Linked DNA regions of Homo sapiens. The protein of the gene in region 2 interacts with the protein of the main gene of each other region in a pairwise test. Each region holds a gene or a part of one and is shown on either strand. Other genes may lie near its edges. The genes, in order: TRAIP, MAGEF1 and PHF7.

Region 1 (9,306 bases), about 130 Mb from region 2:
GCCTAGTGTTCTACCAATGCAGATTAGGATGGGGTGGAGCCAAGCTCACAATTTCATCAGTGTTCCAGTTTTCAGGCCTGTTTAATGCTTTTGCAAGGCCCTCCCTTTCCTTCATGGACCCCCTCCTTGTGGGTTCTGGCTGCTGTGTCAGTCTCTTGTCCCCTGGCCATGCTTTGTCTCCCAGAATTTTTTGGAAATCTCTGGGGGCTGATGGTGGTTGCCCCTTCTACTTGTTGCAGTAGGATTACCCTTCATACCTGTCATTTTAGGGAGGCATCAGCATGTAGCCACCACCCCCAACTACAGAGTCAATGTTAGGAAGATCTCTCTCATGGGCCCCAAGGGCCCCTGAACTCCAGGCTAGAGACAGCCAGGGAGACCTTTCCTTAGGGTAGGGTAAGGCCGCCAGGAGCCATGAGTTCATGGAGGAGATGTTGACTAATCCCATGCCACGCAGGCAATGGGCTGCTCAAGGCCTTAGCTCTGTTCTGGAAAGGGGAGCTTTGAGTGTCTTGCCTGGCTCCCTGAGGCCTCTGGCATGAAGCCCTGTAACTTGACCATGGGTGGGTGTCCCAAGGGTGATAGTGTCACTCAGGAGGGCCTCAAGCCAGCCTCAACCAGTGAGGGAAGGACTACTAAGCCCTAGGTTCTTTCTCCTTGTAGGACAAACAGAAAGTGGGAAGGAAAGAAAGTGGACCCCTGGCAGAAAGGGAAATAGGCTTCAAGCTCATGAAGGAAGAAGAATATAGAAACAGTCTAAGACAAGGCCGGGCGCGGTGGCTCATGCCTGTAATACCAGCACTTTGGGAGGCCGAGGTGGGCAGATCACGAGGTCAGGAGAGCGAGACCATCCTGGCTAACACGGTGTAACCCCATCTCTACTAAAAATACAAAAAATTAGCTGGGCGTGGTGGCGGGCGCCTGTAGCCCCAGCTACTCAGGAGGCTGAGGCAGGAGAATGGCTTGAACCCGGAAGGCGGAGCTTGCAGTGAGCCGAGATCGCACCACTGCACTCCAGCCTGGGTGACAGAGCAAGATTCCGTCTCAAAAAAAAAAAAAAGAAACAGTCTAAGAGAGGAAGAAATGTGTCCATATGATCCAGATGTGGATATGGGGAGTGAGGGAGGCACCGTGAGAACCTCCTGAGTCTTGAGTTTAGTGTTGTGGATGACCAGGAGGTGCAAGTGAATAAGCCTGGCTTGCCTTGAGCTTGGGCACCACTAGGCAACGCCTTAGGGGATGGCTGGGAGTAGAAAGTCCTGCCTTGAGCCACCTGGAGGGTAAAATTTACAGGACCCAGCGAGATCCTGCCTTCCTCTTGAGTTTACCTTTCCTAACCTGAGCCTCAACTTGCTGGGGTTGGTAAATGGTGGCAGAATATGGATACTGCAAAAAAGTTGGCATGAGTGGTCCTGGCTGCTGTGGTTCCCAGAGGAGGAAGCAAAGCAGCCAGCCTAGAGTTGGTTTGAGGTGGGTTTGTGCAGTCTTCATTTTAACTTGCAGGCGGGGACAGAGGTAGAGCTTCTAGGGTCCTGGACAGGGAAAGGAAGAAATAGTCCAGGCTGCCTGGATTGCTTAGCCACCCAAATCAATGCAGGTAGGCTTCCTCCCTCTGATGTGTACACCCCAGTGGAAGTGGGATTGTGGTGCAGCTCTGAAAAGTTCCTGAGGAAGGAAAGAGAGAAGGCATCTTTGGAGCTACCCTTGCCATTCCCCAGGGTTCTCCTTGTATGACAGGAGGTGGGGAGCCCTGCCAGGTCTGGGTGGGCTGGAAGAATCCTGTCGGCTGTAGTTTTAATAGAATAAAACTTCACTCCCCACCCCCCACCCCCCCCCCCCCCCCGTGTTATAAAAGTAAAAACACACTCATTGAGAATTTGGAAAATAGGGAGTTATCATAGAGGTACTTATGGTTGACATGTGGAATATTTCCTTCTCCTTTTTCTGCATGTGGGAGTGGTGGGGGGGTGCCAAATCATGTAATTGCACTATACATGGAGTTTTGTGTGCTTTTTAAATTAAATTAAATTTAAACTTTTTTTTTTTTTTTTCCTGAGACGGAGTCTTGCTCTGTCGCCCAGGCTGGAGTGCAGTGGCGCGATCTCGGCTCACCGCAAGCTCTGCCTCCCGAGTTCAAGCAATTCTCCTGCCTCAGCCTCCCGAGTAGCTGGGACTACAGACACAAGCCACCACACCCAGCTAATTTTTGTATTTTTAGTAGGATGGGGTTTCACCATGTTAGCCCGGGTGGTCTTGATCTCTTGACCGCTTGATCCACCCGCCTTGGCCTCCCAAAGTGCTGGGATTACAGGCGTGAGCCACTGTGCCTGGCCGAGAGTAGGGCTCTCTTGAGGGGTGGCCTTGAGTCAGGAGTGGGCTCCAGGTCCCTGGAGCTGAGTTATCTCTGATGCTTCAGGAGCTGTTGTCCTGGGTTACCACTGTGGCCCCAAGTAACCAGGTCATCTCTGCCTTCAGCCCAGCCCCTGTGGAGGTGAATCTGAAGCTCCGCCGGCCATCCTTCCGTGATGATATTGATCTCAATGCTACCTTTGATGTGGATACTCCCCCAGCCCGGCCCTCCAGCTCCCAGCATGGTTACTACGAAAAACTTTGCCTAGAGAAGTCACAGTGAGTGATAGTCGCTGGCACTGTCCATGGGCTGGTAGGGGGATAGCTAAGACAGCTCTGCAGGCCCTGTGCTGTTAGCTCTGAGTGGCTGATGGGGCAGTGAGGGTTGCCTAGGCTTGGCCATGGCTTTGGTTCCAGCTACCTCTTGTTCCCTCACCTGAGCACTCAATCTGTGCAAACCCCTTCTCTTTTCTCATTATTCCTCACCATCACCTTTCAAGGCAAACGTATTGGAATGCAAGTTAGAGAGAATGCAGTGATGCCAGAAGGGGTGGGTCTGGGCTGGAGAGGGTGCTCCCAATACCTTGAAGGCCTGCCCACCAGAGTCCTGAGCGAGGGACTCTGAACTTCCTCTTCTATGTTTGCCTCTGAGGCTCATGCCTGAGGGAGGATCATCTCAAACCACAGAGCCCAAGGCCTTACCACCCAAGGGGGTGACCCACAGGGGCAAGCATGAGAAGCTGTCTGGAATTCCAGTGGGGCAGGTGGAACCTGCTCTGGGGTACGGTGGGACCAGAAAAAGGGAGGCTGTCTCCTTGGCCAGCTTTGCCAAGTGTAATTCACTGTGGAGACAAGGACTATACTCATTCATACAGGTACTGTTCAGGTGAGGCTGGTCAAGGGCTGGGCAGGTTTCCTCTTTTTCAAAGACTTTGTACAGAGAGAAAGAAGAGAAAGAGAAAGAAACTGAGATGCTAGACAGTGGAGGTGGAAGGGAGCAAGAGGGCAAGCCAGCTGGGCTGTCCTACCTCCCAAACCTCAGGGGGCATGGGCACCCCTGTTGTAGAGGGCGAGGCCTGGTAGCAATGAGAAACAAACCTAGGACCCGTGGGCTGTAGTCCTCAGGGATCCTGTCAGTGTCTGCTGTGTACTCTGGCTTCCTCCCATTGCCCTTCTTCCGCTGTAAAGGTTGAAGGTGGACACCTGGGGTCTTCAGGCTGCCAGGCCTTTCAGAGACATTTCCACCACCTTCATGGCCTGTGGAGGTAGTGAAGGAGGTAGTGAAGTTCTGAGTCCCTAACTCAGCTCGTCCTTCCTGGAGCCTTGGTTGTCATGTAGCCTTACCACAGGCCGTTAGGGCAGGAGCAGAGGAGTCAGTCATCAGGCCCTGATCCCACTCTTGTCCTTATGGCTTGAGAAGCCACAGGGCCAGCCTTAGATCACCATCTTCTCACCCACCAGGGAAAATGCCAGGAGAGGGTATCCAGCTGCTGGGTTCCCCAGGAATTGGATGGAAATACAGTTTCTGGCTCTGGGGCTGGGATTGGGAGACCAGGGCCTGGGGCCATGCGCTATTCTGCCCCAGGCCCTTCTTAGACACACTCTCTAGGGAGATGGCTTGGCCCTGTGTTCTGAGAGGATTTTGTGGGCTACTTTACTGAAAGGCTAACTTACTGAGGCTCTCGTGGAGGTAGTGTCCCCTCTCTGGGAAGACAGGACTAGGCCTGAGCTCATTAAATTTCTTTTGCTCGTATCAGGGCATGACTGGCTTTCCTCCCGTGGGTGGTGAGTTGATTGGGCTCTTCAGCCCCATATAGAGCCTGGGACATGGTGAGGTGCCCGAGGACTTGAGGAGCGTTGGAATTTGGCCTTGAGTGGAAGCCACAGGATTGGGACATGGTCCAGTCATCCCCAGTCATCCCTGTCTCTGCCACCCTACTGGCTGTGGCTGTCCAGCTGTTAACAGACCTGCACTTGGGGTGGGATCACTGAGGTGCCTTGCCCAGAATGCAGGCATGGCAGCAGCAGTGCCACATGGTAACTCCCCAAGGGGCGTGTGCTGAGCCTGGTTCACCTGCCCCCATGTCTTGCTTACCTACCCCTTGCCTTCTCTCTCATTCTTGTAGCTCCCCAATTCAGGATGTCCCCAAGAAGATATGCAAAGGCCCCAGGAAGGTAAGAGCTTTCTAGAAGAAGCACAGTCTAACCTTTGGCAGGACTGGACTTTTGGGAGGGCACGGTCTTGCCAGAGCCTTGTCACTCCTGGTCCAGGACTGAGGTACTTCGGAGCCACCCTTGGGATTCTACTCATTATCCCTCCTGCCTCCTAGTGAGGCATCAGAGATCCTGATCTTGTTCCACCACCACTACCCTCCCTCCTTTGCTGACATCCAGCTCATCAAGTCTGGCCCTGGGGTCTTCCCTGCAGGAGTCCCAGCTCTCACTGGGTGGCCAGAGCTGTGCAGGAGAGCCAGATGAGGAACTGGTTGGTGCCTTCCCTATTTTTGTCCGGAATGCCATCCTAGGCCAGAAACAGCCCAAGAGGCCCAGGTCAGAGTCCTCTTGCAGCAAAGATGTGGTGAGTGTGGCTTCCCACAGTGGCAGGAGCCAGCCCTCTTGGGTAGAAATGGGTGGCCAGCCCCCCAGCCCATTAGCCTGGCCCACTCATCTCTTCCTTCCACCCTAGGTAAGGACAGGCTTCGATGGGCTCGGTGGCCGGACAAAATTCATCCAGCCTGTATCCTTTTCCTGTGATGTTGAGCTGAGCTGAACTGTGGAGCCCATACTATGCCTCACCTATACCCCCAGCCTGCCAGTGCCAACAGCCTCAGGTGTGCAGTGCTGGGCCTCATTCTGTGTATCAGCGCCGCCCACCCCCGGCTCTGAGCCTTTCTTGCCCTGCATTGCAGTCCTTTCTCGCCCTGCATTGCAGTCCTTTCTCCATGCCTCTTCCTTGACAGCTCCTCCAGACTGACACAGTCATGATCCGCCCATTGCCTGTTAAGCCCAAGACCAAGGTTAAGCAGAGGGTGAGGGTGAAGACAGTGCCTTCTCTCTTCCAGGCCAAGCTGGACACCTTCCTGTGGTCGTGAGAACAGTGAGTCTGACCAATGGCCAGACACATGCCTGCAACTTGTAGGTCAAGGACTGTCCAGGCAGGGGTTTTGTGGACAGAGCCCCACTTTCGGGACCAGCCTGAGGTGTAAGGGCAGACAAACAGGTGAGGGTGAGTGTGGCACCCAGAGACTGCTCTTCCTGCCCTCACCCTGCCCCACTCCTACGACTGGGAGCTGACATGACCAGCCCACTGATCCTGTCAGCAGGTCCTGCTCCTGTTGCCAGGCTCCTGTTTATAGCCATGATCAGATGTGGTCAGACTCTTTCTGGGCCTGGAGACCACGGTCACTTGTTGACTGTCTCTGTGGACCAGAGTGCTTGAGGCATCTCAGGCAGCCTCAGCCCAAGCTTCTACCTGCCTTTGACTTGCTTCTAGGCATAGCCTGGGCCAAGCAGGGTGGGGAATGGAGGATAGCATGGGATGTATGGAGAGGATGGAAGATTTTCATGTAAAATAAAATTAAAAAAAAAAAACAATCTCTTCTTCCTGGTTCTGAGAGTGTAAATTTGCACCAACACTTTAGAAAACTGTTTGGCATGACTTTCTAAAGCAGGAACATCGCCAAGCCTCAGATCCAGCAGTTCCTTCCCTAGGCATATGCCTTCTCATGGGGCACAGGAAGACTCTAGAAAGAATGAGATCACTGCAGCTTTTCTCACAGTCTCTAACCTGGGCACAGCCTAAAGGCCATAAGTAGGAAAGTGAACGAGTAAATGGAAATCTATCTATACAGTGTACTCACAGCAAATAACCAGCGACCACTACCTTCCGTTCCTACCCACGTTTAAACGCTACCAGCCAAATTGCTAGCTTTTGACTTTTGGCTGCAAAGGCACTTTCTTTCTTTTCTTTCTTTTTCTTTCTTTCTTTTTTTTTTTTTTCTTTTTGCAACAGGGTCTCCCTCTGTCTCCCAGGCTGGAGTGCAGTGGCACAATCACAGTTCACTGCAGCCTCAACCTCCCAGGCTCAGGTGATCCTCCCACCTCAGCCTCCTGAGTAGCTGGGACTGCAGGTACATGCCACCACGCCTGGCTAATTTTTTTATTTTTATTTTTTGTAGAGACAAGGTCCTGCTATGTTGCCCAGGCTGGTCTCAAACTCCTGAGCTCAAGCGATCCTCCTGCCTTGGCCTCCCAAAGTGCTGGAATTATAGGTGTGAGCCACCACGCGCAGCCAACGGCACTTTCTTCTAAAGTGCTTCCCTTCTTGACCCCCAGCCTGGGTGAAGTCCCCTAAATTTCCCTCTCCCACTATTAGGTAGGAGTTCACCTGTTTTTCCAGGACCCAGCATGGGCCTGGCACGGGGAGTAAGAGGCACAGGGAGTGAGTGAGTGCTGCAGTGGAGGTTGCCCAGCTGATCTCTAGCATATCTGGAGGAGTATGGGGCTTTGTGGCAAGGAGGTGCCATTCTTGGTTATGAGTTTTGGCCCCTCTGCAGCTGACTTGAGCCAAGGAAGTTTAGTGATGCAAAGCGAAGCATCAGGTTAAGAGTGTAGGGGCTGGCTGCTAGCACCATCCTTACCAGCTGAGTGATCTTAGGTAAATTACCTGGCCTCTCTGTGCTCAGCTTCTTTTTTTTTTTTTTGAGACATAGTCTCAGTCTGTTACCCAGGCTGGAGTGCAGTGGCATGATCTCAGCTCACTGCAACCTCCACTTCCTGGGTTCAAGTGATTCTCCTGCCTCAGTCTCCTGAGTAGCTGGGACTACAGGCACGTGCCACCGTGCCCAGCTAATTTTTGTATTTGTAGTAGAGATGGGGTTTCACCATGTTGGCCAGGCTGATCTCGAACTCCTGACCTCAGGTGATCCACCCACCTTGGCCTCCCAAAGTGGTGGGATTACAGGCATGAGCCACCGTGCCTGGCCCCTGTGCTCAGCTTCTTTATCTGTAAAGTGGGGATCTGGGCCAGGCATGGTGGCTCACACCCATAATCCCAGCACTTTGGGAGGCCAAGGCAGGTAGATTGCTTGAGCCCAGGAGTTCAAGACCAGCCTGGCCAACGTGGTGAAACCCCATCTCTCCAAAAATTCAAAAATTAGCTGGGCATGGTGGTGTGCACCTGTAGTCCCAGCTACTTGGGAGGCTGAGATGGGAAGGTCACATGACCCTAGGAGGCAAAGGTTGCAGTGAGCCGAGATCATTCCACTGCACTCCAGCCTGGGCGACAGAGCAAGACTCCCAAAAATAAAAATAAAGTGGGGATCTGTGTTGCGTATAGGTTAAGAACTTATGGCAGCTAGGTGAAATAAGCCAGACACAAAAAGACAACTATTGTATGATTCCACGTACATGAGGTGTCTAGAACAGGCAAGTTCACAGAGACAGAATAGAAGTTAGCATGGGATAGAGGGAGGGGGCAGGGGAATTATTGCTTGATGGTCACAGAGTTTCTGTCTAGGGTGATGCAAAAGTTTTGGAAATAGATAGGTGTGATGATTACCAAAAAATGAACTTGTGACCTGAATACATGGATATCTTGTGTTCATGGATTGGAAGACTTTAAAGATGGCAATAACCCCCAAAGCATTCTACAATTCAATACAATCCCTATCAAAATTCCAATGGCCTTTTTTTTTTTTTGCAGAAATTTGAAAACTGATTCTCAAATTTATATGGAATTGCAAGAGGCTCTGAATAGCCAAAACATTTTTTAAAATTGTTTTAAAGAAAAGATAAAAGTTGTTCCCAATTTAAAAACTTAACTACAAAGCTATAGTAATCAAAAGAGTGTGGAGCGAAGGCATGCATAATGGTGGAATTGGAAGCTCTAGGGGTTGGTTCCTGAATCAAAGCAACCATTGAGCTGAAAAGAGCAGTGATTGTAATCAACTGTTTCAGAACCCGGAAATTTAACAAGGGGGTTGCTTGATGAAGAGAGTAGTGTGAATCAAGCAGCTACTTCTCCCATTCCTCAGCCCCATCCGGCTGTGGGGATAGCAGCACCAGTTCTGAAAGCAGCTGACTGGTGCCAGAACAGGCACGGGAACCTTGCCCTCCAAAAATGCTGGGGTTGTGCGCTTTGACGGACCTGGAGGTACTCTGAGATGCTTGCCTTGGTTTCATTCAGCCTCTTAGATGCAATTCCTGCATTAATACCCCACCCAACCCCACCTTGGCAACATATCAGAAGATTTAAAGGACTCGTGCCTTTTTTTGTTTGTTTTTTAAGCCAGAAAATCTTTGTCAGCTCACTCACTGGCTGACTACAGAGATAATAGAGGCCCGGCACAGTGGCTCACACTGTGGGAGGCTGAGGCAGGAGGAATACTTGAACCTAGGAGTTTGAGACCAGCTTGAGCAAAATAGTGGGACCCTGGCTCCACAGAAAATTTTAAAAATTAGCCAGGTGTGGTGGTGCATGCCTGCAGACTCCCAGCTACTAGGGAGTCTGAGGTAGGAGAATTGCTTGATTCCAGGAGTTGGAGACTGCAGTAAGCAGTGATTACACCACTGCAGTTCAGCCGGGGCAACAGAGTGAGACCCTGTCTCATAAATAAATAAAAAATTAGGTTGCTGCAAAATAAAATATTAGATTGGTGCAAAAGTAATTGTGGTTTTTACCATTACTTTATAAGAGATAACAAACTTCAGTGACCACACACACACAAGAGACACACACTTTGCATAAATAGTTTGGAAAAAATCACAGATGGCTCCAGCCCTCAACAAGCAAAAATTTAGGTCAGGCACAGTGGCTCACACCTGTAATCTCAGCACTTTGGGAGCCCGAGGCAGGCAGATCACCTGAGGTCAGGAGTTCTAGACCGTCTGAGCCAACATGGTGAAACCCCGTCTCTACCAAAAATACAAAAAATTAGCCGGGCGTGGTGGCACATG
Region 2 (11,495 bases):
GTCTGCTCACATTACTGAGGAGTAGCTGTGATCTGAAATCATTATTTTTATTTCTTATTTTTTTCTGAGACGGGGTCTTGCTCTGTCTCCCAAGCTGGAGTGCAGTGGTATGATCTCGGCTCACTGCAACCTCCGTCTCCTAGATTCAAGAGATTCTTGTGCCTTGGCCTCCCAAGTAGCTGGGATTACAGGTGTGTGCCACCACGCCTGGTTAATTTTTGTAATTTTAGTAGAAACAGGGTTTCACCATGTTGGCCAGGCTGGTCTTGAACTCCTGACTCCGGTGATCAGTCCGCCTCGGCCTCCCAAAGTGCTGGGATTACAGCAAACCTCACTCAATCATCCCAGCTGGGTTAAGTATCCCTTTGTAGACTTCAACTCATTGCACTGCTAATTTCTTGTTTATTTACTTACTCTTCAATTCTGAAAAAAAGTAGGACCTTTATCTTGTTTAGTATTCTATCCCCAAGTGCCCACACAGTGCATCACAGAAAACAAGATGCTCCACAAATGTTTAATTTATTAAGTGTGCCAGGGTATACTGCTAACTCATTGCATTTTAATTTTTCTCTAGATACTCAAATAGCTAAGCAAATGAAGGTACATGCCAGTCTTTCTTCTTTTATACACAACAGACAAAAGTGTTGGGGGGCTAGACACCAACCAGCTATTTTTTTCCCCTGGAACCAGATCATCATACTGCTGAGTTCCTTCAAACCATCAAAGTACAGCCTTCCTTCCAATGTTGCATAATCTGTTCAAAATCACAGTATAAATACAAAGTTCTTCCATCCATTTTACAAAACCAGCAAAACTCTACAATAAAATCCTACAGGAAAAAGTAGACCAATCTCATTTACAAACAGCATTTTAACAGTAATTATTAAATGTTACAAAACATAAGATACAAAATCTAAATCCTTAAAGTCACACGATTTCTACAGAAATAAGACCCTCGCCCCACCCATATTACTTATGACTCAGGACAGTAGTTCGTCCTCACGGGGACCCACTGGCCAACTTTTCACCAACCCTCACCAGAGGTGGATGCCGGCCCTAGCACTGGCCCTGGCCCTCATACTGGCTTCAGCTCTGGCCTTGGCTCTGGCCCTGTCGGCCTCGTCTGCTAGGGCCTCACGGTACTGCACTGGCCAGTGCTGCGGTTCCTTCTTATGCAGTTTGGCCACGAACCCCAGGACTTCCATCTTGCTGATTTCCAGGTTGCTTCGGGGACCCCAAGAGAATTCATATTCTGGTGGATTGGTGTGAGGCACCCGCCTGTAACTGAGATATCGCTGCTGCACAAAATCTTCCATAATAAGCCTCTTCGGATACCCAAAGAGGAAATGATACTTTGAGGGTTGCACCCCCAACCGACGCAGCATCTCCCAGACCTGGGCCTCCCTGGCGCTATTACCTCTCATATAGATAAGGCCCAGGATCATCATTAACAGACCCAATCTGGGGCCATCTCCTCCCAGATCCTCCTCCTCCTCCTCCTCCAGAGGTTTTAGTTTGTTGATCAGGATGTAAGTGTGGTGCTTGCGGTCAAACTGTTTCAGCTCAAAACCAAAGACATACCGCAGATGCTCTGCGGCCCTTGCGATGATGTCCGGGAACAGAATCTTCAAGTCTCCAATAACGTATTTCACCATCTCCGAGCGTGTGATGGGACTCTTCTTCTTGTCTTTCACCAGGAGGAACTGCACCAACTCCGCCACCGTCCGATTCAGCCGGCGGTAGGCCCTGCGCCTTGCCAAGGCTTTGGCCGCCAAGGCCCTCGCGCCTTTCCGGGTGAGGGCGGGCTCCGCAGCCCCCTCCTCCCTCCCGGCGCCAAGCTCCTCCTTGGGGCGCTCCTGCGAGGCGGTCGGGGCCCGGGTCTCACCATCATGGCCGCCATCCTTCTCCCCCTCGGCCTGCGGGACCGGGAGCCCCCTGCTCTCTGGTGTCTGCAACATGTTTTCGGGCAGGCAGGTGCAGAGCGCGTACACGGGCCGAGGGGTGTGGGAGCCGCCGCGCAAGCCCCGGGGGAGGGGTTGGACAGCGGCAGTGACGGCGGGAGTACAAGGAGCAATGGCAGCGGGAGCTTTGTGGCTGCTGGGCCGCACCGCACGGGAGTCAAACCTGCGGCCGCAACGCCGCCAGCAGCCGGAACCTGCGGCGCGCAGCCTCAGTCCGCGCCCGCGCGAGGGGCCACTTCCGGCCACCTCAGCCAGGACGGCGACCCTAGTGCCGCGCGCAGCCCCTCCTTTTCCGGTCCCTTCTGGGTTGGGGGTGTGCCCAGGCTGCTATAAGTGGAAATGCCCTGGAGGGTGGGGACGGGGGTGCGCCCTGTGACGGATTTTAGGCTTGAAAAGTCGGGGGCGGGGGAATGTAACCAGGACTCTCCCATCCAAGGCATGCAGACTGGGGAATGTTTCGGTGTACAAGAGATGAAATAGGGATGGAGTGCCCCCCACGTTCTTTCTGCAAGTGCCTATTTGTGAGTGTGTGTATCTGGGATTTTCAGTGCTTTACCGGGGCTCTTGTGCAGAGTGCACGGTGAAGGCTGCGAGGTAAGACTGTGCGAACCAATTAGTAAAGGATGCTAGGGAGACTGAAATTTATTCTGGACGTAAAGAGAAAATACTGCAGCGGGATTTAAGCAAGTGAGTGTCCAGACCAGATCTGTGTCTTCGGTTCTGGCGGTATTGTGGAAGATAGATTGGAGTTCGGCCGGCTAAAAGCTAGAATCCAGTTTGGAGGATTATTATAGTGCAAACTAGGAACTGGGACCCGGCCTATTTACTGGGTTGTATCCTCGGTGCCTAGAGCAGTGCCTGACACGGAGAGGAACTCAATAAATATTCAATGGATCATTATGATGAGGGAGTAAGGACAGCAGATTCCATGGGGATAAGAGGAAAATACTGAGAAGTACAGCAGGAATAGGGACTGGTTGGAAGAAAGGGGAAGTTTGTTCTTTTTTTTTTTTTTTTTTGCGCAAGTCAAATTTGACTACTCCCATGTATTTCTTTTCTTTTTCTCTTTTTACACACTCTGAGCTTTCTTCTGCTTCTTGCTCCTTCCTTCCTTCTTTCCTTCCCTCCTTCCTTCCTTCCTCCCTCCCTTCCCTCCTTCCCTTCCTGCCTTCCTTCCTTCCTTCTTTCCTTCCTTCCTTCCTTCCTTCTTTCCTTCCTTCCTTCCTTCCTTCTTCCCTCCCTCCCTCCCTTCCTTCCCTGTCAGAAATGCCCTCTCTATCACCTCCATTTCTCCAAATCCTGTCCACTATTCAGGGCCCAGTTTAAACATCACCTTCCCAAGCCTTCCTTAGTCACCACGCATAGAAGTTATTTACTGTCATCTCTGAATCACCTTAGCAATTGTTAACATCCACATATATAGGCTTTATTAGGTGCCAGGCTCCGTTCTAATCACTTTTCAAATATTAATTCATCAGATTCTCACTAATGTAGGTACTAATACCATCATCCCCATTTTATAGATGATTGTATCTTTTCTGTGACACAGTTTGCTACTTACTAGCTATGTAATCTTGGGCAAGTTACCTAAACTTCTGCCCTTCTGTTACCTTATCAGTAAAATGAGTATAATAGTAGTAACAGCATTGTGGAGATTATGTGAAGTAATGCACATAAGCATTTAACACAGTGCTTGGCACATATTGATATTCAATACATGTTAGCTGTTAATTAATGCATATTTTTATATGCAATATACAATATTAGAATTGCAAGATGAACTGTCCTGGAATGCCTAGCACTCTGTGGAGATGCGGAGGAGGTGTCCTGGGACATAGCACTGAACCGGGTCAGTACTCACCCATTCTGTGACCTTGTACAGGATGCTCAAACACCCTGGGCCACTTTTTTCTGATACTGTAGCCCTGCTAGGTAAGTGGTATTAGCCCCATTTTCCAGGTGAGGTTACACACAAGGAGGTTAAGTAACTTGCCCAACATCACACAGCTGGGATGTGAACCCATATAGTATGACTCCAGAGACTGTGCTCTTAACCACTACATTCATAGATGTTAATTATTATTATTATCATTTACTATATTTTGTATTATAATTTGTTGTGCTTATCTTATTACCCTCCCCAAACCAAACATCCTAAAAGCTAGGGCTATGTTTTTAACTCTTTTGAAGAGCTTCTCTTAGTCAATACTCGATATATAATTGCCAATGAATAAATGACAGAAGGCTTTACTTTTTTCCCTAGGAAATAACAGTTACTTATTTTAAGTAAATATCTGATAGACTTTTCTAAATCTAAATATGAAATCTTCCTTTTAAAAACTTTTGAAAATTTATACCCACTTGTATCATATGACTTACAAACCTGGAAGTATGTGAATGAAGCAGGAGAGGATGTTTATTATAGCCTAGCTTGAGGCTATTATTAGTTTTCATTGTGCCAAACATTCTATGTACAATATAATTTTGTCCTCACAAATCCCTATTAAGAAGGTATTATTATCCACATTTACAAATGGGAAAACAGTCACAGAGAGGTTAAATCACCTGCCCTGAACCACCCATCTGTTAAGTGCTAGACAAGAAATGAAAACCCAGATCTGTAAACTCTGAAGCAAGACTGCCTGGTTATCTGTTTTTCCTGAAGGTAGAGAGAGCCACCCATACCTAAAAGGACAGTGCTAGAGATAAAATAGTCCACTTACATATTTTCCTCACTACAAGGATTGCCAGGGAGATATGCAGGAGATACATGCACGGAAAGGAGCATGCAGAAGATATATTAAATGAAAAGAATTTTGAGGGACAAATCTGTGGTAATAGGGCTGGATTTTAAGAACTGAATAAATGACGATACTACTCATAAGAAGGAACAAACTACTGACACAATGTGAATGAGTCTGGCAGATATGTTGAGTGACAGATGAAAGATACAAAAGATTATACGTATAATATGATTCCATTTATCTGATGTTCGAGGCAGGATAAGCTAATCTATGGTGATAGAAATTAGGACAGTGGAGGCCTGGGGTGGTGTTGACTGGAAAGGGGTATCCAGGAACTTTCAGTGGTGATGGCAACGTTCTGTGTCTTGATTTGGATGTAGGTATACATTTGTCAAAACTTGTGAAACTGTACGCTTAATAGCTATGCATTTCTTTTCTTTTCTTTTCTTTTCTTTGCGACAGGGTCTCACTCTGTTACCCAGGCTGGAGTGGTGCAATGGCACAATCTCAGCTCACTGCAACCCCTGCCACTGCAACCCTTGCCTCCAGGTTCAAGTGCTTCTCTTGCCTCAGCCTTCCAAGTAGCTGGGATTACAGGCACCTGCCACCACACCTGGCTGATTTTTGTATTTTTAACAGAGACGGGGTTTCACCATGTTGGCCAAGCTGGTCTCAAACTCCTGACCTCAAGTGATCTGCCTGCCTCAGCCTCCCAAAATGCTGGGATTACAGGTGTAAGCCACCATGCCCAGCCAGGTATGCATTTCATAGTGTATGAATCATACCTCAAAATTTATAAAAATAAAAAAGGATTTTAAAAAATGAACAGCCCTTTAGGTATGGGAGGAGGCGAGGAGTAAGAAAGGTGAATGGACTCTGCATTACCACTTGCCGATCGCTAGATGTTACCATGTTACAGTGGAAGGAATGCAAACAATAATTTTTCCCATTTTTTTTTTTGTTATGTCCACCATGTAACCGGACACACAGAATTTTTTTTTTTTTTTTTTTTTTTTTTTGAGACGAAGTCTCACTCTGTCGCCCAGGCTGGAGTGCAGTGGCGCATCTCGGCTCACTGCAAGCTCCGTCTCCCACGTTCACGCCATTCTCCTGCCTCAGCCTCCCGAGTAGCTGGGACTACAGGCGTCTGCCACCATGCAGCTAATTTTTTGTATTTTTTTTTTTAGTAGAGATGGGGTTTCACCGTGTTAGCCAGGATGGTCACGATCTCCTGACCTCGTGATCCGCCTGCCTCGGCCTCCCAAAGTGCTGGGATTACCGGCATGAGCCACCATTTCCGGCAACAGGCAGACTTTTAACACATTCCTTACCTAAACTTTTAAAAGGGACAAAAGATATATGCCTTTGGTTTGGGAGATGACGAAACATATGCTTTAATGACTATTGGGTTGGAATCTTCTTGAGAGAGGATCCTTCTTAGCCTAGACTAGAGTCTTCAAAAGCCCACAGTGCTTCGTAAAGTTTCATACGTGGAAGAGAGAAGGATGTTCCACTGGAAAAGCAGAATTGCAGCTGAGCTGTCCTGAAATGCCCAGCACTCTGTGGAGACGCGGAGGAGGTTTCCTGGGACAAAGTGCTGAACCAGGTCAGTACTCGCCCATTCTGTGACCTTGCACAGGGTGCTGAACCTCTCTGAGCCACCTTTTCCTCATCTTTAGGCCCCAACAACCCTTGCTTTGCCCATCCTTACAGAGTTATTTTGAAGTTCAATCAAGATTATACATGTAAATATGCGTTTAAAGTGCTCCACCATTAAGAAATAAATATAAAATGTTACAGACCCTTTTCTAAAAGAGATATGGTGGAAAAATCCCAGTAATGAGGGTGACTGGCCTCTTAGACAGACATTTCGGAATAGCTTACACATTCCTCATTGAAAAAACTGTCTGGCCAAAAAAGATTAAATAAAGAAATGTCAAGTACTGACACTCCATTTGAGGCCAGTGAATACTTTGGTGCAGAGCCAGGGTTATCTTGTTGGATTCCTTCTAAACTTGGCAATAGAGTCCTCCAAACTCTTGAATGCCTTCTTCACACAGGTGCTCAGTAACATGTCACCCCAGATCTGATGGTCTCCAGGCTGCGTGGGTGCTTGTGTCTTCCCTATTTCTCCTGACAGTCTTGACAGCCGTGCAGCTGATCTGGCTCCAAACAGGGATCAGAGGAAGAGCTCTGTCCCTATCCCTAGGCCGGGACAAATTGAAGCTGGTTTTGTCAGAGCAGAATGGGCAGAGTGTGAGGCTTTGGGTCCCGTCTATGGGGCTGGGATTGAGGCAGGATGGCCAGGCGAATGATTCGATCTGACTTGGGTAATGAAAATTGTTTGTTACTTTTTGAAGAGTAATTGTGTAAGCAACAGTACTTCTGTGTTTGGCTGCCAGTGACTCACCAGTGTCTGTAATATAACACCAAACCCAGAGGAGGAGCAGACCCTGGCCAGCGGGGGAGGGGGAATGGCAGGGGGCAGAGGGCCCCCTACTCATTCATCCCCTTCTCCCTCTTCCACTGTCCCACCCCCTCTCTAAACCTCGAAGGAGAGTTGGCGAGAAGGCATTTGCCACCTGGACACAATGAGGCCCAGTGCAAGGGGCGGGCGAGAGCCTGGCCAGGAGCCAGGGCCCTGGTCTGAATGGCTGTTGCCAAGGGGCTGCCAACAGCCCATCTCAATCCCCAAGAGGCTGGGCAAGGGCGGGGGGCCCAACCCCCACCTCGAAGGCCCACCTCACGCCATTCGCAGGCCGTGATCAGAATGTGCAGGACGCAGGGGCTTTGAGCGGCTGAACAGAGCCGTTTCCCCTCTGCTGGCCGCCAGTTTGCTTGGATTACAGCGGCCTCTCTGGAGCCCCTTTGTGGGCTGCTTGTTATTCCGCACGCACAGAGCACTGTGCATTCATCTTTATTAGTTCTAATTGCTTCCCCATTCTAATGGGATCTTGATATTCCCATACAATTGAAAGGAAATGTATTCATTAAAATAATTCTTCTCCTAACTGCCGCTTCAAGCTGCTCCTCTAAGTGACATTGTCTCTCTAACCACAGCCTGCTGAGGCCTCTTATTAAGACTCTAGTCAAAAGCCAACTTTGGGCAGCAAACTTTCCTTGCAGGAGTTTCCAGACACTGAAGAGAGGGTGCTTTTTAATCGGCTCACACACAGAAGTTGGAGGCCAGCTGGTGTAATTGGGGGTGCTGCTCCGGGTGGATGGAGGGAGAAGGGCTCGCCTCCAGCTCTGCCTCCTTTAACAATGACCCCTTTCTGCACACCAACCAGCTCATTTGGAGAGGGCTTCTCCCTCTGTCATGTGTGTGAAACTTCTTGTTTATGCCACAAGCAGTTACTAGGTGTGTTTTAAGCACAAGGCGCTGAGTAAGGTGCTATGGGAAGTGTGGAGACAGGGCTGCAGATTCAAGGCGTTTATGATCTTGGTGGGTGGCTCCCAACTCCAAGTCCCTAGAGTTAGGTATGAGAGGAAAGGCTGGCAGCGCTCTCAATGTTCAGAAAGCTTACTAGGATCAAGAACTGAGAAAAGCAGGCTATTATTTCATAAATGTGTTTGATTTAATAACCAAAATCTTTCAAGCTGTGGGACCATGGGGGTAATACAAGAAGCTTTTTGGGACATTGGGAACCACTGATCTAGTTAGGGGAAATAAGCTGTTGTAAAAAGAACGACTACGTAAATGTCTGCTCTTGACATCAGTGGTATCAATAAAGTGTTGTGGGAATTTGGAGGGGTGGAAGGGAGTATACGCTGGGCACTGCAAAATTGCTTGAACCTTATTTAATCCCTAGAACAGCCCTTTGAGGGAAGCATAACTATTCCCCATTTTACAAATGAAATCTGAGAGAAGTTAGGTAATGTTTCCACTGTCAATAGTTGGAGACAGGATGAACACCAGCCTTCTGATTCCAAAACACAGGCTATTTTCACGGCATCTCTCACATCGTATCTGTCTTGGGCGATCAGAGGTTTCCTGTGAGAGGTGGTGTTTGATCCCCCTTGAGGCCTTTAGGAATAGTGGGTTGTCAACAGGCAGGGAGTGTGGTCCCAAAGGAAGCAAAAACACACACAGGGACTGGGAAGAAGCTGGCATATCAGGAAATGACAAGAGTCCAGGTGGCCCAGACACTGGAGTGTGTGCAGAGGTGGAGGAGGAGAAAAGCAGAAAGGTTTGTGAAGGCCAAATTTTAAAGAGCCTTGCTTGTCAGGAGTTTGGACTTTATCCTGTAGATAATTCTCCAAGGAGGATACTTGAAGCCTCCAGATAAATACAGTATTTCTTTCGGGAACATCAGTTTTCCTTGAGGTGAATAATTTTAAACATCTTCATATTAAAAGAAATTCAGATATATCATGGAGTAGAATGCAAAATTCTCATGAATTTTTAAGAGAAAACAGGAGACTTCAAAGAGAGTTTGGGTGTGCTGGCAGGAGCTTCAGGCTCTGCAGCACCCTGGGGGAGCATAAGGCATTTCTTTTGTCTACTGTTGGTGCGCTTCAGTGGTAAAGATTGAGAAGCGCTGATTTTACACAAACTGTTTTGATCCCAGGAATAAAATCGATAGCTGTATTTCAAGATGGGAGGCAGGGGCCTGGAAGATAGTTTGGGCAGGGCGGGGATTGAGGGCAAGAGGCCAGTTAGGAGGCTGTTGCAATAAACTCTCCAGAGACATAAAGGGCCTGGGGGCTGCCTGGGTCTCAGAGCTCACCTCTTTGCCCTGGCACTTTTGGAGGGGGCTGCCTGAGAGACACCCACCTTGTAGCTGCTCCTTTATTTTATTTTATTATGTTTGGAGATGGAGTTTCACTCTTGTCGCCCAGACTGGAGTGCAATGGCACCATCTCAGCTCACTGCAACCTCCACCTCCTGGGTTCAAGTGATTCTCCTGCCTCAGCCTCCCAAGTAGCTGGGACTACAGGCGTGTGCCACCATGCCCAACTAATTTTTGTATTTTTAGTAGAGACGAGGTTTCGCCATATTGGTCAGGCTGGTCTTAAACTCGTGACCTCAGGTGATCTGCCTATCTCAGCCTCCCAAAGTGCTGGGATTAGAAGCATGAGCCACCAAGCCCGGCAGCTCCTTTCTTTTAACAAACTCGGCAGTAACACTAAGATGGCCAAGGAGGTTGTAGCAGAAGCAGTGAAAGGAGGTTCTGGGCCAGGAACAAGTTTTGCAGATAACCTTCGTGCCCTGGCCTCTTCATCAACGATGCTGCCCTCCAACCACCTTCTGGCCCAACAGGTCTGTTAACTTACCTGCTGGAAGGTGAGTGGCTGGACCAGCGATTCTTGAGGACCACTGCCTTGTTGCTGCATCCAGCCTTCACACACTGGTGGGCAGTTTTGTTTTACCTAGTGTGGTGGCCAACACCTTATGGTCAAGAGAGACTCAAGGGAAGGAGGAAGGGGGGATAAGCATCCCAGCTGAGGACCAAGGTCGTGCTTGACTTCTGCTTGTCATCAGTAGATGGAGATAGCCCACCTCAATTAGTCAAAATCCCTAACTCATATGGGTCTTTCTGGAGGAGCCAGTTCTTATGTAGTTCGTAATTTGTTTCTTGAATCATCTTTGCTTTTAAAGCATTACGAAATAACTTAGTGCTTTTTTTTCCTAATTTTTAGAAGATACTATTTATTGTAGAAAACTGAGAAAATCTTGACCATCAAAAAGAAAAAAACAAAAACAGAAAAACACCTATAATTCCACCATGCAGGGGTAACTACAGTAAACAAATACATTGGTGGGTGTCCTCCTCCAATTTTTCTAAGCACATACAATTTTATTTTTTAATGGAGTCATTTTGTGTACACTGCATGTATACTGTGGCTTTGTATATGAATAACATATATTTCTTCACATACCTTGAAACTTTCACTCTAATTAATATTTTCCTATAAGGTAATTATTTGTGACTGAAGTTGCCCATGGATGCCATGTCACCTTTAATGCCTATTGTTATAGATTTAGTTTGTTTTCAGTTTTTCATTCTTAAATACAATGTGAGGAACTTATTTGTGGCAAAATTTTTCACACAGCAATATTATAAATATTTTCTCTTATACAAGTAATCATTTTATTGCTGAAAAATGTAAGTTAAGGCAAGAAAAAAATTAAACACCTGAAATGTTACCATTCAGAAATCATAGCTATATACCTTTCAGTGCCTACCCTCACAGATTTAATTGTGTGCATGTGTTTATATCTATACATAAATAGATACATTGAATAAAGTCTGTAAGTCTGGTATAAATATATTTTTATTAAAACAATACTATTTTCTAGCCTGCTTTTTCTTAATAGATAATGACCATCCTTGTCATTAAATAGTGTTCAATATTATCATTTTACTGCTTTCTAATAATACATTGTATAAGTGTCTAACACTCATCCTGTTGTTTATTTGAGTTTTTCCTGGACCGTTCTTCTTTTTCTTATTTTTTGCAGGAGTTCTTTAAATAGTAAAGATATGAAATTTTTTGTCATGTTGCAAATATCTTTCCTGGATTATTCATTTTTCCTTGGGACTTGTTTGAGATAAGTTTTTTCCTCTTTATTTTCATAATTATAAAAATAAAACATAATTTGTATTAACATTAGAAAATACAGATAAAAGGAAAAATAATTAAAATGAAATAACCCTAAATCCCACCAACTAAAGATAACCACTACTAATATTTTAGACTGTATCTTTCTAGTCTTTCCTATTTCCCAATATAGATGAGTAGGACCATATAAGTATGATATATTTTTTAAAATTGGGATTATTCT
Region 3 (9,641 bases), about 130 Mb from region 2:
GCAGTACTGAGTAGGGGTCAGCCACCTGGATACATGTTTCCCTTTTCTTTCATCCCAGGAAGTGAGGCTGACATAGAGGCTTCTCAGCTCATTCTGGGATGAGCCCATTTGCTCTAGCAATGCTGAAGATTTTGCTTATTCTAAATCTTATCATGTGTGAGGTCCTATAGGCCAGGAATGACCACAGACTGGACTGACTTTCCTCTAACTGCCTGAAACCAGCCCTCAATACAGGCCTCCAGCATGGAGCACCAAAGCTGAGGCACACCTGAGCATTCCCAGGGTTCTCTGGTTCCAGGCAGAGAACTAGGGCAATGGTGGAAGGGACCCAGGGCGGAAAAAGCCCCACCTGTATGCACTTGCGGTGGTAGATGGCTTGACTACAACACGGGCTCTGGATGTTCTCAACACTCTGTTGGGATAAGTCTTCACAACATAAGATGCAGCTTTCCTCCCCCACATGCCCATGTTGGATGTTCTGTGTTGGGCGATGTTTGTCACAAAATGATCTGTGGCAGGTAAACAGACTTGGTTTCTGGTTTGTCATTGATGTAGTTTCCCAATGGCCCGCTCTAGGAGGGGCAGCCAGCCACCCAGGCTGGTGCCCAGTGAACCTCCACACATGGGGAAGAGGAGAGGCAGAGTGAAGAACTGCCACATGCCTTCTCACGGCTGCTCACCTACTGAGCAAAGTTCCCAGGACTGTCTCCATAGCCTCTCGTTCCTGAAAGCCCCACTTAGTGCTGAGCAGCTGTCTAAGAACCCCAGCTGTTTGTAATTTAAGGAGGGGTCAGGAAGCAAGAAGAACCCCCTGTGAAATCTCCAAGTCAAGACACTGTTTCTTATTACTGAATGGAGGGACAGATTCACTGGTGAATCAAAACAGGCCTGCTTGTGAGAACTGGACTCTGATTTCATTAGTGGCTGAATAATAAGTTGCAAAAAGGAAGCCAGACTTTTCCCTTCCCTCACTCACTTGTACTCTCCAAAAAATTGTGAAAGGCAACCCCTTTCTTGGCCACAAGGCAGATGGAAGTTTCTGAGGCACTGATCCTTCTGGCAGTTGATAGCAGCTCCCTTTTTCTTGCACACAAAGCAGATCTGCAAATGAGTTCCCAGACAGTGCTCAGGACCCCAAGAAATGCAAACACACACAGTGTAGCACATCTTTCTATTAAATGGAAGTTTTGTGAAATAATAGCCATTCCCTATCTTCAGTGGTCCTGAATGCTCTGGGGCACCCGGAAGCTGAGCTTCAAGCAGCACTGAGTTCTTTCCTATTTTCTCAAGATGTTTCTCCCTCTTCTCACTTAGGACACCCATACCCCAGAGGAATATGGGACTTAAGGACTAGTTGGAAAATCCAAGAGTCCTTTGACATCTAAACTAGGAAGTAGGGAAGAGAACAGAAACAGGAATGATGGGTGAGGTATGAAAAGAGGCCTACCCCAAGGTCCTCATTTCAAGAGATTCTAACCTTCCTAGAAGCCCGGGCTGCCTCCTTTTTGATGTCTTCAGGCAGAAATCCATGGAAGCCTCTGTTGGACTGGCCCCTCTGAGGCAGCTTACTAGATAAGATCTGCGGGGGCAGTAGAACCAGGCTGTTAACAATGATGATCAGTGAAACAGTGCAGTGAGGTGAGGAGAAGGACAGGGTAAGAGAGCTAAAGAATAGAGCTTGGGCCGGGTGTGGTGGCTCATGCCTGTAATCCCGGCACTTTGGGAGGCCGAGGCGGGCGGATCACGAGGTCAGGAGATGGAGACCATCCTGGCTAACACGGTGAAACCCCATCTCTACTAAAAATACAAAAAAATTAGCCGGGTGTGGTGGCACGCACCTGTAGTCCCAGCTACTCAGGAGGCTGAGGCAGGAGAATGGCGTGAACCCGAGAGGGTGGAGCTTGCAGTGAGCCGAGATCGTGCCACTGCACTCCAGCCTGGGCCACAGAACAAGACTCTGTCTCAAAAAAGAAAAAAAAAAAGAACAGAGCTTGGTGGAATATATATGCATTGACAGGGTAATTTATTTAATGAAGGCTTACATGGCACCAACCATGTGTTGAATACTCTAAGTGGTTTCAAATATTAACTCATTGAGTCCTCCCAACAGCCCTAGGAGGTAGGTACTATTATTGTCCTCATTTTATAGGAGAGATGATGCGACCTGCTCAAGGCCACAGAACTCTGGAACCTGGACTCTTACTTTTGCTCTAGGCTGCCTCTCACTTACTGAGGGCTGCTATTGTGTGCTGGGACTTTGGGGGAAACATTTCCTTTGTATTTACTCATTTTATGCTTACAATCCTTGGCCAGGCACGGTGGCTCACACCTGTAATCCTAGCACTTTGGGAAGCCGAGGAGGGCTGACCATCTGAGGTCAGGAGTTCGAGACCAGCCTGGCCAACATGGTGAAACCCTGTCTCTACTAAAAATACAAAAACTAGGGCATGGTGGTGCGCGCCTGTAATCCCAGCTACTCGGGAGGCTGAGGCAGGAGAATCGCTTGAACCCGGGAGGCGGAGGTTGAAGTGAGCCAAGATCAGGCCACTGCACTCTAGCCTGGGCGACAGAGCAAGACTCCGTCTCAAAAAAAAAAAAAAAAATTCCTGTAATGGCAGATGCTATTATGATGCTCATCTTACAGAGGAGGCCGCTGAGGTGCAGTGTGGCAAGTGACACTGCCTCCCAGGGTTATAGGACAAGGAGGAGCAGAGCTGGCTATTCACACCCAGGCCCATGGAATCCCCATTCTTACCCTTCCTGCTGCATCACCTCTTAGTACAGAGAAAATACTCTTCTCAGAGTAATACAGGAAGAAAAACAGGGTTTTAATATCTCTTGATTGTTGTTGTTCTGTATTATGGGGGAAGGAATTGAACTTTTGAAACACATATTTTAAAACTAATTATCTCAGGGCTTTGGGATGAGTGATTTGTTTTCTTCATATTTTTAAGTATCATTCATGTTTTCTGCAATAAGCATGTATTGATTTAATAAATTAGCTACTAAAAAGAAAAAACTATATCTATATGTTCTATACAGAAAGATTTCCAAAATATATATGATGGAAAAAAGCCAAGATACAAAGCACTCTGTATAATGTTTAATTTTTATGTAAAAAATGTATATGCTTGTAAATACATCAAAATTATAACTAAGCCCTGACACCTGATAGGACTTACAAGAAAGGAAAATCACAGACCAATCTTTCTCATGAGCACAGATATAAAAATCAAAACAGATGCAAACTGAATCCAGCACCATATAAAAAGGACAATACATCATGACCAAGTAGAGTTTATACCAAGAATGCAAGACTAGTTTAACATTAGAGCATTTAGTTGATGTAACAAACTACATTAACAAAATTAAAGAGAAAAATCAAGATAATCTCAATAAATACAGGAAAAGTGAGAAAATTCAACACCCATTCATGATACTCTGGGCAAACTATATATGAATAAAAGGGATCTTCAACCTGATAAAAACATCTATGAAAAAAACCTAGAGCTAACATACTTTAATAGTGAAAAACTAGATGCTGTCCCCTGATGTTGGGAACAAGACAAGGATAACAACTCACACCACTTCTATTCAATGTTAGGTTAAAGGTCCTAGCCAATACAACAAGGCAAGAAGAAATAAAAGGCAAAGATTGAGAGAAAGAAGTAGAACTGTCTTTATTCACACATGACATGGTTATGTGCATAGGGAATCCTGTAACAAGGCATTTACAACAAAATAAAAAAACAACTAATCAAACTCAATTTAACAAGATTACAGGATACAAATCAATATACAAAAATAAAATGCATTTCTATATACCAGCAATAAACTTAAAAATGAAATAAAAATACTATTTACAATAGCATAACCACAGAATATTTAGGAATACATTTAACAAAAGATGTACAAGACTTTGTCACCAAAACAACAAAACATTGCTGAGATATATTTTAAAAGACCCAAATAAGTGGAAAAATATACCATGTCCATGGATTGGAAGGTTCAATATTTTTTGTCAATTCTTCCCAAATTGACCTATAAATTCAATGCAATCCCAATCACAATCCCAGTAGACTTTTTTTTTAAAGAAAAATTGACAAGCTTAATATAAACTTTATAAAGAAAGGACCTGATAGTCAAAACAATCTTGGAAAAGATTGTAGAACTTAACAATACTGAATTTCAATATACTATAAAGCCACAATAATCAAGACAGTGGGGACTTGTGTAAGAATAGATACATAGATCAATGACATAAATAGATTATCCAGATCCACAGATATATGGTCAATTGATTTTGACAAAGGCACCAAGGCAATTCTATGGGTAGGTAAAGATTTCTTGCAACACACAAAAAGCACTGACCATAAAAGAAAAAAATGGATAAACTGGGCTCCATTACAATTACAAACTTGTTCTTTGAAAGACACCATTAAGAAAATGAAAAGGCAAGCCAAAGACTAGGAAGAAAATAGTCTCAATACATATATTTGAAAAAGAATTTGTATCTGAAATATATAAGCAATTCCTACAACTCAATAATAAAACCACTCAATTTTTTTTTTTTTTTTTTGAGACGGAGTCTTGCACTGTCGCCCAGGCTGGAGTGCAGTGGCGTGATCTCGGCTCACTGCAAGCTCCACTTCCTGGGTTCACGCCATTCTCCTGCCTCAGCCTCCCGAGTAGCTGGGACTACAGGCGCCTGCCACCATGCCCGGCTAATTTTTTTATTTTTAGTAGACACAGGGTTTCACCGTGTTAGCCAGGATGGTCTCCATCTCCTGACCTCTTGATCTGCTCGCCTCGGCCTCCCAAAGTTCTGGGATTACAGGCGTGAGCCACTGTGCCCGACCACCACTCAGTGTTTTTAAATGGGTAAAAATATTTGTACAGATACTTAACAAACGAAAATATGTGGGCCGGGCCAGGCGCGGTGGCTCACGCCTGTAATCCCAGCACTTTGGGAGGCCGAGGTGGGCAGATCACGAGGTCAAGAGATCGAGACCATCCTGGCTAACACGGTGAAACCCTGTCTCTACTAAAAATATAAAAATTAGCCATGCGTGGTGACAGGCACCTGTAGTCCCAGCTACTTGGGAGGCTGATGCAGGAGAATTGCTCCAACCCGGGAGGTGGAGGCTGCAGTGAGCCAAGATCATACCACTGCACTCCAGCCTGGGCGACAGAGCGAGACTCCATCTCAAAAAAAAAAAAAAACCAAAAAACCAAAGAAAATATGTGAATGGCCAATATGCACATGAAAAGAAGCTTTAGTCATCAGAAAAATGGAAATTAAAACGACAATGAAATACCAATACACACCCAGTAGAATGGCTAAAATTAAGAACACTGACAAAACAAAGTTCCGGCAAGAATACTGTGCAACTGGACTTCTTATAAATTGCTGGTAGGAGTGTAAGCTGGTACAACCGCTTTGGACAGTGATGTGGCAACCTCACATAAAGTTAAATATCTAATTAGCATACAACTAGTAATTCCACTTCTAGGCATCTGCACAAGAGAAGTGAAAGCACATGTTCACAAAGAGACTTGTACATGAATGCTTAAAGTAGCTTTATTCATAATAGTCCTCAAATGGAAACAATTCAGATGTTCATCAACAGGTGAACAGATAAGCAAATAGTAACTTATTCATGCAACCGAATACTACCAAGTAATAAAAAGGCACAAGCTATGAATGCATGCAACAACATGGATGAATCTCCAAAACACTGTGTTGGGAGAAAAAAGCCAGATACAGAAGATTATAAACTATATGATTTCACTTATATGAAGTAAAAGAATAGCCAAAAATAATCCATAGATCAGAACAGTGATTACGTCTAGTGGGATTGACTGGAAAAGGAGGCAGGAGGGAACTTTCTGGGGTGATGAAAATATTACCTATTTTGATTGGGGTGGTGGTTATTTGGGGACATACATTTATCAAAACTTATCAAACTGGACCCTTAAAATTAGTGAATTTTGTTCAAGACCAGCCTGGCTAACACGGTGAAACCTGTCTCTACTAAAAATACAAAATTAGCCAGGCATGGTGGTAGGTGTCTGTAATCCCAGCTACTTGGGAGGCTGAGGCAGGAGAATCACTTGAACCAGGGAGGCAGAGGTTGCAGTGAGCCGGGATCACGCCACTGCACTCTAGCCTGGGCAAGAGAGTGAGACTCCGTTCTCAAAAAAAGAAAAAAATTGGTGATTTTTACAGTATGAAAGTTATACCTAATAAAAAAATACTGGGAAAAAGCAATTGGAAGGATGTTACAACTTTGACAGCATTTGTTTCTGGGGAGAGGGAGAAGGATTGGGAACATTGTTTAGGGAAGAGACTTTTTTACTGAACTTACTTTATACTGTCAAGATTTTATACCAGACACATATATTTTTCTTTTTTTGAGGCAAGGTCTTCCTCTGTCACCCAGGCTGGAGTGTGGTGGTGTGATCACTGCTCACTGCAGCCTCCACCTCCAGGGTTCAAGCGATCCTCTTGCCTTAGCCTCCGGAGTGGCATTTGTCACTATACCCAGCTTTTTTTTTTTTTTTTTTAATTTTTTTGTAGAGACAAGGTTGCCCAGGCTGGTCTTGAACTCCTGGGTTCAAGAGATCCTCCTGCCTCGGCCTCCCAGAGTGCTGGGATTACAGGCGTGAGCCACTGCACCCAGCCTAAAAATAGATTTTAAAACAAAAAAGCTATTAAGAAAAATAAAAAAACAAGGCTGTGGATATGAGGATGAATGTAACAGAGAACAGTCAGTACACCAAAAGCCATAGGATATTCAAAGCAAAGGAGGCCTCATACTCACAAGACAGAAATAATGCACGCTGATATTGTCTTTCTGAAGAAATTCCCCTAATTTTTCGGGATCCCCAGGTTCTCGAAGGCATAGCCAGCAAACTGGAAGAGAGGACACCCAGAATTTGGCTCAAATTGACCATTAAGAATGGAAGAGAAGGGTGAGAATGTAACCATTCCTCTAAGTCAGGAAGGAGTAGAATACTAGGAAAAGGGTCATTTTGGCAAGGAGGAAGGTTGGGATGAGGTCTTATGTGGTATCAATTAGTCTGTCACATAATTCTGGTTACAATGAAAAAGTTGGCCACAACTGCTCACTTCATTTTTTTTTGGTTTTGTTTTGTTCTAAAGTGACTTTAATAACTTGTTTCTTGAACTTCAGACATGGTAATTTAAAATGGCAGTTCCTGAGTCCTCAAGATCTTAGAGAATCTAGGAAGGAAGTAGGGCTGGGAGAGAGAGAAGAAGCAAGTATACTGCCCCACACAGGTGGCCTTCTTTGCTGAGGGCTGGAGGCAGTGGGCGAACACAAGCTCCAGTCTTTCTTACCAGGCCCTGAAGACGGTTTCCTCTGGGTTACCCTCCTAGTCTTGGCAGATTTTCTATACAAGAGAAATAAGAAGCACAAGGTGTTCTTTGGGGATCTTGTTGATAACCTTTTTAACATTTCTCTTAAAATGCCATTCATGGGTCTGATGAAGGACCAACATATCTAAAGCCTAAGACATCAGCTTCTTTTCATATTTCACATATATATGTTTTTGAGACAGAGTCTTGCTCTGTTGCCCAGGCTGGAGGGCAGTGGTGCGATCTCAGCTTACTGCAACCTCTGCCTCCTGGGTTCAAGCAATTCTCCTGCCTCAGCCTCCCGAGGAGCTGGGATTACAGGCGCCTGTCACCACGCCCAGCTAATTTCTATATTTTTAGTAGAGACGGGGTTTCACCATGTTGGCCAGGCTGGTCTTGAACTCCTGACCTCAGGTGATCCACCCGCCTCGGCCTCCCAAAGTGCTGACATTACAGGCATGAGCCACTGCACCTGGCCATATTTCATATTTTTTTTAAGTGCAAAACATACTCACTGAGTTATTTGAGGGCAGGAACCGGATTGTAAGCATCTTTCTCTCCCCAGTGCCTGTACTGCCTATGTTGACTGAATGAATGCAAGAGCAAACCCTCTTTTACTTTTTTACTGCTTCTTCTGCCAACTACTCTGAATCTCAGGTGGTACCACCTTTACAAAGCATACTGAAATGAACCAAAATTGATAAAAGTATTTCCTGTTGCGAGGCACTATTCTTGGCACTTTACATGTATTGGCTCAATTAATCTACAGTAGCTCAATGAATCTACAGAACACTCTAAAAAGTACATGCCATTATTATGTACATTTTCCAGATGAGGAAACTGAGGCATAAAGAAATGTAGTGCCTTCTGTCACAGTTATTGGCAAGTGGCAGAGCTAGGATATGAATTTGGGTAGTAAGGTTCCAGAGTCAGCACTTTGCTACTAGGGACAGCACTGGTAAGACAGGTATGACAGCTCCCAGCTCCGTGTGTGCTTCCACACTGTCCAACCTCAACCCCCAAGACTACGACAAAGGGGGCAAAAAGTGCAGCCTATACCACAGGCCATTGGACAATTTCTCCCAAATTCCCTATGTCAACTACTTCTACCTCAATCTCTGGCATTCCTTCTTTTCTTTTACAGTCTTCATTCGGTGCTGTCTCTCTCTCCTCTCTTGAATTCTTCTATACTATTGTGAGGACAATACAGGCTCTTCCAGCTATAAATATAAATGGGGTTTGGTAAGCAATTTAATTCTGTATTTGGTTATCAAGTTCCCCAGGGTCAAGGCAATGGTGCACTTCACCTCCCAACCCATGTGATGGAATAAAAGGGACTGTTCTAGGTACTTGACATGTGTTAACTCACAAACACGCCATGCAGTAGGTACCATTATTATCCCCATTTTCAAGATGGGGGACTGAGGCACAGAGAGGTTTAAGTATCCTGCCCAAGGTAAGAGTTAGTAAGTGATATAGATGGGATCTGAACTCAAGTAGCCTGGCTCCAGAGGCCAACACTAACTCTCATGTTATACTGCTATCACACAGTAGCAAAAGAACTTAGAACCATTACTTGACCTAGCTAAATGGTTGTTTCTTTGTGCCTACAAAAAAATACGTGAAGTAGCACTCAGGAAAAAAAGGCTCCTTTTGCACCTAAGTATGGGTGCCTTAATTCTACCCAGTGAAAGCTAGATAAGGTAGCTTTTTCCTAAGCAAAGGAGCCTGTGAGATTTGGGCTGCCTAAAAGCAAGAACTCCCTCTAGTGAGAGACAAGAGGTAACACTGACAAACACCCCCTAGGCTCTATCACTTTTTTTTTTTTTCAGACAGGGTCTCTCATTGTTGCCCAGGCTGGAGTGCAGTGGGTGAGTGCATGAAAGTGCCACTTTCCTAGGCTCAGATGATCTTCCTGACTCAGCCTCCCAAGTAGCTGGGACCACAGGTGCCATGCCACCGCACCAGCTAATTTTTTGTAGAGACAGGGTTTTGCCATGTTGCCCAGACTGGTCTTCAACTCCTGGGCTCCAGTGATCCTCCCGCCTCAGCCTCCCAAAGTGCTGGGATTACAGGCGTGAGCCACCAGGCCTGACCTCTCCTATCAATTCTTTTCACCTAGGCTCAGGTGGCCACTGAGATATGGTCTGTACCCAACCTTTGTCTCCATCTGAGCCGAGTACAATAGCCAAAAGTGCAGAAGGTACCTTGTCTCCTATTTCCAATGTCAGCCAACTCCGGCTGTTACCTGTTTTCATTA

What was found.
Region 1: the proteins of MAGEF1 (region 2) and TRAIP interact in a two-hybrid assay, tested with the Homo sapiens proteins (one study listed by BioGRID).
Region 3: the proteins of MAGEF1 (region 2) and PHF7 interact in a two-hybrid assay, tested with the Homo sapiens proteins (one study listed by BioGRID).

The regions. Positions count from the first base shown.
Region 1 is NC_000003.12:49,825,238-49,834,543, reverse strand, and holds the end of TRAIP (E3 ubiquitin-protein ligase TRAIP), read left to right. Parts: intron 1-1,503; exon of another isoform or gene 1,504-1,597; intron 1,598-2,475; coding exon 2,476-2,628; intron 2,629-4,475; coding exon 4,476-4,524; intron 4,525-4,777; coding exon 4,778-4,927; intron 4,928-5,035; coding exon 5,036-5,086; intron 5,087-5,318; coding exon 5,319-5,441; 3' UTR 5,442-5,943; downstream 5,944-9,306. UniProt on the Homo sapiens protein: E3 ubiquitin ligase required to protect genome stability in response to replication stress.
Region 2 is NC_000003.12:184,709,864-184,721,358, forward strand, and holds MAGEF1 (melanoma-associated antigen F1), read right to left. Parts: upstream 2,202-11,495; 5' UTR 1,959-2,201; coding exon 1,035-1,958; 3' UTR 501-1,034; downstream 1-500. UniProt on the Homo sapiens protein: Enhances ubiquitin ligase activity of RING-type zinc finger-containing E3 ubiquitin ligases. Proposed to act through recruitment and/or stabilization of the E2 ubiquitin-conjugating enzyme at the E3:substrate complex.
Region 3 is NC_000003.12:52,411,771-52,421,411, reverse strand, and holds part of PHF7 (E3 ubiquitin-protein ligase PHF7), read right to left. Parts: exon of another isoform or gene 9,589-9,641; intron 8,602-9,588; 5' UTR 8,533-8,601; coding exon 8,492-8,532; intron 7,417-8,491; coding exon 7,364-7,416; intron 6,917-7,363; coding exon 6,825-6,916; intron 1,580-6,824; coding exon 1,478-1,579; intron 1,102-1,477; coding exon 977-1,101; intron 510-976; coding exon 350-509; intron 1-349.